Linked DNA regions of Homo sapiens: region 1 is linked to region 2. Evidence: fine-mapped expression QTL. A gene starts in region 2. The other region holds a variant in brackets. All regions are shown on one strand. Distances are between the middles of the regions. Region 1 has its middle 10 kb from the start of LINC02487. Region 2 holds the start of AFDN (afadin, adherens junction formation factor).

Region 1 (5,372 bases), 120 kb after region 2:
CAGGAAGCCACACTCACCTTCCTTCCTCCTCTCCTGACTTGGGTCATAAAAGTCAGGCAGGACTCTCTGGCCCTCCCGGGAAGCTGGTCTAGGAGCCCCGCCTGTGAGAAGTGGCCACCCCATCATGTGGAGTGGAGTGTCCTTAGCTCGGGAGCTGAAGGGCCACACAGGCCTGCCAGGTCCCCCCGCTTTGCTGCCAGTAGATCATGCTGCTTCCTTCTGTTCTTTCCTTCCACCGCCCCATTTTCACCAAACCCCCTGTGAAACACACTCAGGCTCGCCTGTTTCTTCGGGTTGGCATTTCCTTATGAAGGCTCTTGTGTCACATAAAACTTAGATGAAGTAAAATGTGCACTTTCCTTTGTCCATCTGTCTGTTGTGATAGAAGCTTCAGCCGTGAACCTAGGATGGGTGAGGAAAGACGTCTTTCCCCTACTGAGCAGCTCTGTTGGAAGTTTTGCATCCTTTCCTTCCTCCCCTGTTGGCTGCTATTCCCAGGACCCCTTCCTTGTCCACTGTCCCTCCCTTCCCAGCCTGAATGCGACAATGGAGACTGCCTTGGGACGGCTTGGAGGGCCTCCACTGGCCTTCCCTTCTGTGCCTCTCTTGCTCTTCCTGCTGTCCCCACCCCTGTGGGTCTGCATCCTGCAGAGGTGCACACGGTTCCTGTGGGACAGTAGAGAAAGCATAAGCTATACACAGGCTGCTGAGCAGGTGCCACACGCTCTCGTGCTTAATCTATTCCTGGACCTGGGCTACAGAAACACGCCAAGAAAAAGGTGTAGAAGTTATTACCCTGAAAGGAAAGAATCATCAAAACGAAATTCAACAGGTGTCACCCAAGGATGTTGGCCTAGGAAGGCACTCCCTGGATGCGGCGCCGTGCTGTGGGGTGCCTGCGGCTGTGGGGTGTGCCTGGGCCCGCCATGGGTCCAGGGCAGCCTAGGGCGGGTGTGGATGGGAGCCTGCAGGGCTGGGGTCTCAGTGGAGCGGGAATCCTGTCTTGGCCCCAGGATCTTCCTGCAGTGCTTCAGGTAACATTTTTCTAGGCTGCAGGAAGATTTCCAGGAGCTTCCTTGAGATGGCTGCAGCCTTGTTTGCGTCCTTGGTGAATACGTAGATGTTTCACGATTCTTGGTCATCTCTGAATCCGGGAGATCGACGCTGAGTCCTACTGGCGCTCCTGCTGCCTCGCTGGGCTCACTGTGGGTGTCCAGCGGCCCTGGACCAGCCCAGATGCAGCCTCTCGCCTGGAGGGTATTCAGGAAGGAGGCCAGTGTCAAGCAACTCCACCCTATGGATTCTGTTTCAGATAAAACATGCTCATTTGGCCAAGGCCAACACAGGCACCCTCCCCCTGCTTTGTCTGGACGTAAGCAGCTGAGGCTTGGCCCTGCACCGTCAAGAGGTCTACCTGGCTGCAGAGGCTCAGCCTCCCCCCTGAGCACTGTGGGGTGTCTTCCACCCTCCCCATCACATGCTAAGCTCTTTCCTTGTAGCCATGGGGCATCGTGACAACATATTTAGCAAAATGCCACAGCTGTCATACGTGTGTTTCTCCAGCTGCTGCTTCTGAGCCAGCTTCCCAGGCCTCGGATAGACCAGAGTTCGCTCATCATGCCGTCTCTTCAGTGACTGATTACGCGGGAATTCGGGAAGTGCCGACTTTCCCCGGATGACTGGGTTTCTTGATGTGATACTCCGCTCAGCAAATCCTACCTTCCTTTCCCTTTGCAATTCTTGAGACCATTTTCTGCTTGACAATAAAGTGACCTTAAGGCACCGTGTTCATTTCAGTTTCAGACAGTTGTTTTGCTCCTTTTTTCCTGTGAGAGAAAGACACGAAGCCCCCTTCCCTGCTGCCGACTTTCTTGGTGTGTCCCTGATGCCAGGCCACCTGTGTCTTCACGGGAAACTCCACAGACCAGGGGCTGTGTAAGATGTCTGGGTGATGTACAGTCACTTTCTGCAAACTTAGAGCATGAAATAGTCAGGACAACATGTCAGCCAGGTCATACCCTTCAGTTGACTATAGTTTTGTCTGGGAGTGAAATTCTAAACTGCCAAGCAGCTTCTGTGTTATGCTGTAATCATTTAGAGCCTTCTCATTTTTGTAAGACTTTTGACTTATCTGTTTCTTGCTTAAATGCTTTCTTCTTTAGTTACGCCTTTCCTGGATGGACATGCGGGCTGTGCTATGTCTGGAGAGGCACCGGGAATCCAGTCACTGAGGCATGCTCACCGTGGCTTCAACTGTGGGCATTGATTTCTTCCCTGAAACCCTGGAGGAGACACATCGGGGCTGTTCTCCTGGCTTCTTCAGGTGTGTGTTCACACCTGCATCTGGGCCTTATGGCCTCCCTCACGGGGCCACATGGGAAGGCCGGGTGCAGGGAGGCTTCTGTGGTGGGGCTGGGGGTGTCTTGTGAGCTTCTTCCTCTCCCTCTTTTCTTCCTTTGTTGTTGTTTTTTTAAATCATGAAGGAAGAGTGATTCCCAGAATCTCACCCCTCTGGACTTACCCTTGGTCTCATTGGCCAGAGCTGGCCACGTGACTACCATACTGGCCATGGAAACTGAGGCAGCAAATATCTGGGTTTTCAGGCTATGGTGGGAACAGCTGTTGAGAACAGCAGCCGGGTCTCAATCGTGGACTGAAGTAAAGCTGGCTGTAGGTCCTCATCCTGCTGTCCCGTCGCTGCAACGAACCGCAGCTCCTCTCATCAACAGGGGCTCCTTTCCCACCCTTGGAGGCCGCGCAGCCTCTGACTTGCTTTGGCCGGTAGGAAGGGGGCCTTGCCCAGCCGAGGCCTAAGACGCCGTGAGCTCTTGCAGTTCCCACGAAGCCCTGTACTGTCACGAGCATCTGCCTGGGGCCCTGAGAGTCTCTGCGGGGCCCAGCTGGCGTGGGAGGGGGCTCGGCAAAGCTAGGTGAAGCCACCCAGCCGAGCCGGCTGAGCAGATGCATTCATTCTCCTCCGCCCCAGCTCAGAGAGCAGCCCTGCCCCAACACCACCTCGACGGTGAGCAGGCGCCAGTGGTGGTGGTTACGTGCACAGAGGTTTGTGGTTGTTTCTTGTGGTTACCACTGTGGCAATAGATAACTGATAATGGAAACAATAGCAACTACAGACGCCCTCACTATAGAATATTTAGAGGGCTAAAAATGTGTAAATACAGAAAATCACC[C/T]GGAAGCCTACCCTGCAGAGAAAACTATTATTAACACTTGGCAGGGGTGCCTTTATTTTTCTATATACTCCTTTTTCAAGTGTAGACATTATACGGTATGTAATTTTTTTCATTTAATGGTAAAAGTTTGTTTTTCATTTTAATGAACACTCTTCTTAAATATCAGTGTAATAGCATGTAAATATTGGGTTATTTGTATAGTTCAAAATTTGTATAAGCATTCCAATTTTGGATATTTGAATTTTTAAAATATTAATGCAATGAACATATCAGTACATAATATTTTTGCTCATATGCACTTTACTTCTTTCCTTAAGATGTATTCTTAGAGATGGGAGTCCTGGGCCAAAGGCAGGTGGCAGCGTCCCCGTCCTGTACCCATCCCGCTGCCTTCTAGGAAGCTGGGGCTGGGTCGTGTGCCCACATCCCATGGATGGAGAGTTCTGTTTCACTCACCATCAGCAGCACAAAGCGTCATCATTTGAAATGTTTCCTTCATGCTTCTAGAAGAAAGGTGTTTTCATTTTAACTCCAGTCGCATGGTGCTCACCTGCTGTGGTGCGTGTCTGTCTCCGCCAGCCGCAGGCACCAGCACGGGAGGCTTGTGTGGCCCAATTCTGGCATTGATATTTGTGGGAACGTGGGTGGACAGGGCCCGAGCAAAGTTTGCTAGTCCCTGAGAAAACAGCCCAAGAGGACACATCTCTTCCTCTTCCACTGGCCATGGTCAGATCTGAATGTGACGGTGGGACCATCGCAGCCTCTCTCGACCCAGGGTCCTGGCTGCCTGAGACGCGCAGAGCTCCTGAACTAACCAACCCTGAGCTCGCCCTGCCCGGATCTGCACCTCCGTTCTTTAAGGAAATGCACGTGGTGCTGCTCCAGCCGTCAGGCTTGTGCGTGTTCTCTGCGGCTGGCGCCTCCCGCGTGCCGTCCTGTGGCCTCGCCCTCCTCCTACTGCTGCTCGGCAGCTGGGGGCTTCTCTCCAGGGTCGTGTGATGGCCTTTTGAAAAATGTAACCAATAAACTCAGACACCTGGAAGCTGCAAAGTGTGTATGTGCCTCTTAATAAAAGATTTTTTAGCATGCTTGTAATTACAAATTTGTTTGCAATTAATATTAAATAAAGAAATAACAAAGAAGAAAAAGTAGATTTCTGGTTTGGTCCTTCCTGGGCCAGCTCTAGTTCAGGGGCTCTGAGGATGCTGTGGTCAGAGAGGCCCTACCAAACACCCCTCTCAAGACCTTTCTTCTCTGTATGGGTGGTGGAGACACAAAATAAACAGGGCTTTCCCTGTGAGGGACAGAAATAAAGAGGATTCAGAGAAGGCCACTCTGAGGAGGAGACATTGGACCTACCACGTGAAAAGAAAGAGAAGGAATTCACTTCAAGAAGGGTGAATTCTCATCAAGACCAGTGAAAGAGTATTTCAAGCTGTCTTGGTGCTGCACATTTGGCAGTAAAACCAGGAGCTTGGAGTACAGTGGTCTGAAGCAGCAGGTCCAGCGACAGCTGCCAGAGGAGGGTGGGCCTCAGGCTGACCCCGGGCAGGAGCTCTGTGCTGACCGTGGAGTCTGCTGGGGCCACTGTGCTATGTCTTCCACTGCTGGCCAAACCTTCGCCCAGGGTCCTGGCAGTGGCCAGAGGAAAACAAGCCAACCACGTTCAGACACGTTCCTGGAGCTGGGAGGAGTCTCTCTGGAACTGGGAGGTGTCTCTCCGGAGCTGGGAGGAGTCTCTCTGGAGCTGGGAGGAGTCTCTCCGGAGCTGGGAGGAGTCTCTCTGGAATGAGGAGGAGTCTCTCCAGAACTGGGAGGAGTCTCTCCGGAACTGGGAGGAGTCTCTCCGGAGCTGGGAGGAGTCTCTCCGGAACTGGGAGGAGTCTCTCCGGAACTGGGAGGAGTCTCTCCGGAACTGGGAGGAGTCTCTCCAGAACTGGGAGGAGTTGCTCCGGAACTGGGAGGTGTCTCTCCAGAACTGGGAGGAGTCTCTCCAGAGCTTTGAGGAGTCTCTCCGGAGCTGGGAGGAGTCTCTCCGGAACTGGGAGGAGTCTCTCCGGAGCTGGGAGGAGTCTCTCCGGAACTGGGAGGTGTCTCTCTGGAGCTGGGAGGAGTCTCTCCGGAACTGGGAGGAGTCTCTCCGGAGCTGGGAGGAGTCTCTCCGGAGCTGGGAAGTGTCTCTCC
Region 2 (5,317 bases):
CTTGCAGAAAACTAAAAAATTGGACTTGTGATGGCCAAATAGAGTAAAAATAATCATTAGATGGTTAAAAAAAAAAATTCACACGAGCTTAGACAAAGCAAATTGAAACTGTTGGCCTTGAAATACTGGCTGAGAGAATTACTCATATTAAGTTTACCTACATCATAATAAAAGATACAATATGTTAAATGCAAAGCTTAACTAGGACCAGAATAAATTTAATAGTACAGGAAAGTTCTCGAGAAAACAAAATAGAAATGTGAGCCAGCCACTATATAGTAAAAAAGCTAAAAAACCAATATATGGACATTCTTAAAAACCATTCATTTCATTATGAAAGGCTTCTAATACAATTCTGAAGAATAATTTCTAAAAATGGAAATGTTCAGATATAAGTAGGGAGAAAAATTAGGAAATGAAATATATCATCTTTTTTTCCAAGTCCTTCAATTCTTGTTTTGCTTCAGTGTATGTACAAAGCAAACTTTCACCTACAGTATAACTGAAAAAACAGCTTTCCAAATGACAGGCCAATTTTAAAAACTAGTCATATCACTAAGAAATAAAAAGTTTCAATTGAGTGCTTAAAATAGAATTTAATTAAATCAATGAACTATAATGTTTCTGATTTGAGATTTTTTTAATGCTAACTCAATTCAAAATCCCAAAAAGCTGAATTCTCTTTATTAAACCGAAAAAAGATTCCTTTCCACCAGACTTGAGAAATCTCTCAAAAAAAAAAAAAATCCATTCAAACAAAAAAAAAAAGCTACACACCAAGAAAATGTTTTATGGTCAACTTTTTTTACCTTGTGATAAAAAGAAAAATGAATTCATTATTCTAAAAGAAAACATAATCCTGAAACTAAATTATCATGTCACCTTTCTAAAGATACACTAGTCTATGAACGAACACTTAAGTACATAGTACTAACTCCCTTACTAGAACCTAACTCATAAAATCATTACAGAAGATGAATGAATCAGGAGTAACTTAACATAACATCTATGCTCAAATTGACAACCTGAGCCTAATGGCGTGTGTCAGTATTCAACTCAGTATTAAGACAAATGGCTAGCTACCCACGTCAAGTGCAGTCACAGGTACAGATGAAAACAGAAGAAATAGAGTCCTTCCCATGACTGGCAAAAACTCAAGAAATCAGAGAAGCAATAGTCAAATTCTCTCAAAAACATAAAGTGGAATTTAATGATAAAAGGATTACATTTCGTAAGAATGTTCAAATCTGCCAAACATGTTTTGTTGCCTAGGAGCTAGTATTTTATAGCAAGTATTAACTATAAATTACCTATTACAACAAATCAAAAATAGACGCTATTAAAATGATTTCCTAAACGGGCACAAATATTGAGTGAAATTTTTTTATGCTGGTAAAGTCTGTGCAGCCACCGAATGAACAGAGCGCGGAACCGACCCTTGCGGAGCGATTTACAGGGTTGCTCCCCGACCCTTCACCTCCCTCCCCTCTCCACGGAGCCCTTCCTAGTGGACTTGGACTCAAACATTTTTTTAAAAGCTGCTCGGAACGCTTTCAGCAGCTTTGCTATAAACAACCCCCATTGTTACCAGGCCAGGAGCGAGCGTGATTTCCTCCTCCTCTCAGGGAGCCAGCCTGGGGCCGGCGCCTCCCTCCGGGCAGAGGCCGCCGCAGAGGGCCCTTCCTCGCGGCCCCGAAGGTGGAGAAGGCGCGCCTTTCCTCGGAGGCGTCCGACTCCGGGCCTGTGCCATCAGGCAGCCCGCACCTCCCGAACTTTGTGATACTGACTTTCCCCTCCCAGCTGGCAGCCTGCAAGTTTATGAACCCGAAGCACAGCGCGCGTCACAGGCTCCATCCCGGCCACGGCGAAGGGGCGCCGCGAGCCACAACCGGGCTGCAGGTGGAGGGCGCCGGCCCCGCGCGCCGCCGCGCCCCCCGCGCCGCCGGGGATGAGGCCGGGGCCGCGCCGCGCTCGCGGGGGTGGGGGCGGCGGCCCAGGTGAGCCACCAGGTGAGCGGCCGGAGAGGGGAACAGGTGACTGCCGCGCCCCGCCAGCCCCCGCTCGGCCCGCGCGACCCCGGGATACACCGCGGCAGGGGGACGGGGGCTGCGGGGGACGCCGGGGCCCGCGGTGGGCCTGGGGGAGGGGGAGGGGAGAGAAGGGGCGGAGGGGGGAGGGGGAAAGGAGGGCGGGTCCGCGGCTGGCGGGCGGCGGCGGGGGGGAGGGGCGGGGCGCGGCGCAGCGGGCGGGGGTCGCGCAGGCCCCGCGCCCGGCGGTGCTCACCTCGGTCGGCTGGCTGATCTCGAACAGGTCCAGCCGGTTGGCGTTCCAGTGGTGGATGATGTCGGCCAGCTTCCGCCGCTCCTCGTCACGGCCGCCCGCCGACATGGTCCTGGCCGCGCCTCCTCAGCCGCGCGGGGCCGGGGCCGGAGGACGGGCCGAGGACGACAGGTCCGCGGGGGCCCGGCGCCCCTCGCCACCCCCCGCCGGCCGCCTCCGCCTCCGCGGCTGCCTCCGCCTCCGCGGCCGCGCCGCGTCCTCCGACTTGGCCTCCGCCTGGGGCTCAGTCCGCGCCGCGCCGCGCCGCCTCAGCCCCGCCGGCCGGTGTGCGCCCGGCGCCCGCCGCCCGCCGCCCGCACCCGCCCGCGCCCCGCCCGCCGCCGTGCGCGCCGCCGCCCGCCGTGCGCGCCGCCGCCCCGCGCGGCGCCGCCGCACCTCCGGGCCGCTCCACTAGGTGCTGCTGCCGCGGCCGCCAGGGAGGGAGGTGTCGGAGGGCGGGCCCCGCGCGGTGCTAGGGTTCCGTCTGGACTGGCGGTGGTGGGTCCCAACCGGCGGTACCGGGTTCCTTCCCGACCAGCGGTGCTAGGTTCGGTTCGGACGCGCGCTGCTGGATCTAAATGGGCAGTGCTGGGTCCGATGGGTGGTGCTGTGTTGGGTCCGGACGCGCGGTGCAGAGTCCGGACGGGCGGTGCTGGATCCAAATGGGCGGTGCTGGATCTGGACGGGCGGTGATGGGTCCGATGGGCGGTGCTATGTTCGGTTCGGACGGGCGGTGCTAGGTCTAAATGGGCGCTGCTGGGTCCGATGGGCGGTGCTGCGTTCGGTCCGGACGGGCGGGGACGGGCGGTGCTGGGTCCAAATGGGTGGTGATGGATCTGTGGACGGGCGGTGCTGGTTCCAGACGGGCGGTGCTGGGTCCAGACGGGCGGTGGGTCCGATGGGCGGTGCTAGGTTCGGTTCGGATGGGTGGTGCTAGGTCTAAATGGGCGGCGCCGGATCCGATGGGCGGTGCTGGGTTCGGTCCGGACTGGCGGGTCCGGGTCTGGACGGGCGGTGCTGGATCCAAATGGGGGTGCAGTGCTGGATCTGGACGGGCGGTGCTGGGTCCGAACGGGCGATGGGTCCCATGGGCGGTGCTAGGTTCGGTTCGGACTGGCGGTGCTGGGTCTAAATGGGCGGCGCTGGGTCCGATGGGTGGTACTGGGTCCGGACGGGCGGTTCTGGGTCTGGACGGGCGGTGCAGTATCCAAATGGGCGCTGCTGGGTCCGGACGGGCGGTGCTAGGTTCGGTCCGGACGGGTGGTGCTGGGTCTAAATGGGCGGTGCTAGGCTCAGCAGGGGACCGGTGGGCGTGGCGGCACAGGTACGGAGCGCAGGGCCGGTGGAGCGCCCTCTCCGAAGGGCCCTGCGCTCCCCGCGCTCGCTGCTCCTCCTGCCCGCGCATTGCCCCGGGGCTGCTGCGTGTTTCTTCCAGGGTGATTCCTTTCCGCTGGGTCACTTCAAAGCCGACCTTTTCAAGCTGTTTTCTTCCGCGGAGGACACGTTGTTAGGCTTTGTGTGCATTTCAAGGGTCATGTTTTCTGAACCGCGCTCTGCCGCTCTTGGGGTGTTCGAGCCCCCACACTGCTGTGCGGTGTTCCTCTCACAGAGTGAGGTTGGAGGGTCCCACTCCCTTTGTGTGTCTCCTTAGAAAACGCCTCTTCTCTCAGACACATCGTTATCTGCCAATTCTTCGCAGACGTAGAGAACGGACTGCAGAGTTAATAAACGTCGAGGGGAAGCTTTGATGCGCCCCATTTGGCCCTGAGAGATGCCACGTGATCGTCATTTTAAATCCTGTACGTGTCCCCGTGGACGTGGAAACCTGAAATTAATTTCAGTAGCAAGCTTTGTGAATTGTAGGGATTTTTTTTCATAAGGTGTCTTTTTTGTAATTGCCCCTCCCCTCCCCCACCCTTTGTTTTGGCTGCAGAGCGCCATCTCTGCAGTCTCCCCACGCCGGGTTCAGTCAGGCGAAGTTGCGTTATCTGTGATGTGTTGTAACAAAAAGCGTTTATCTTTGAAACACTAAGGCAAGTAATGAGAAGAGTGAACTATATTTGACAAAGCCTTTTTATTTTTGTCATTACTTTTTTTTCCAATGTGGAAATAATTTTTCTCTCCACCAACTGGATTTCCTCTTTTGCAGACAATTAAAGAATTCTGTCATCCCCACTGGGTTCTGTCTTTTCTACCGCACTTGTCCAGTACAGCTACATAAGGAGGCTTCTCAGCAGAGGAGCCTGGGGTGTTGAACCAGTGCCATGAGGGAATGAATTATTCAATAGATCGCTAGTCTCCTTTCTTAAAATTAAAGTGTGGTGACTTGCAGAAAAGCATCTGTGTCTAAATGTCATCTTCGTGTTCTAGCACTCGGTTTCTTTATGCCTTTCAGTTCCTGGGCTTCCCGATGGACTCGAGTTTTTACTATGTGAGCATCCCGGTGCCTGCACAGCAAGGACTCTCATTGGGTTCCACACGTGCTGCGCAGATCCCTGACGCAGCGTTCACTGAACCTCAACTGCAGGAGCTTCATTCCTGAGGACGCTGTTACCAAGAATGACTTGCCTCTTGAAGAATGAGTTTGCAAAGCCGGCAGTTAGATTGCTGATGTCCAAAGTAAGTATGTGTAGCATCACTAAAGAGAAAATTCAGGATTCCTGGAAAACAGTTATGGGCTCTCTGCAGTGTTATTTTTGTAATAAAAAACATATAGCATATGTGAAATACCTACTGGGTGATGCAGGACACATAGAAGGCTCGAAATTAATGTGAATCATTCTCGTTTTTCTGACTGTCATTAAAAGTCCCCATTTGTATTATGTATGAGTGGTATATCAATATCTAAACTACACTTTATTGTAGGTCCCAACCAACATTAGTTTATTGACAAATGTTTAAGAGCAGCCAAAAATTCATAGAATACCTATGATTCTTAAATCATGAACACTCCCATAACTGGTATATGTTTAGGACATGAAAATTTCCAGGCTGACAA

What was found.
Region 1: its variant is fine-mapped to the expression of AFDN in whole blood (TOPMed, PIP above 0.99).

Annotation. Positions count from the first base shown.
Region 1 is chr6:167,704,103-167,709,474 of GRCh38, reverse strand. No RefSeq gene overlaps it. Among named protein-coding and RNA genes, the nearest start is that of LINC02487, 10 kb to the right of the region's middle. RefSeq lists enhancers at 411-1,131, 1,132-1,853. The variant C/T (reference allele first, on the strand shown) is at 3,189.
Region 2 is chr6:167,824,204-167,829,520 of GRCh38, reverse strand. AFDN (afadin, adherens junction formation factor) reads right to left here and starts at 2,610. Exons shown (of 34, transcript NM_001386888.1): 1 at 2,284-2,610. The coding sequence starts at 2,388. AFDN-DT (AFDN divergent transcript) reads left to right here and starts at 2,725. Exons shown (of 2, transcript NR_027906.1): 1 at 2,725-4,118; 2 at 4,715-5,317. RefSeq lists silencers at 2,458-2,657, 3,572-3,641 and enhancers at 2,808-2,887, 2,918-2,987.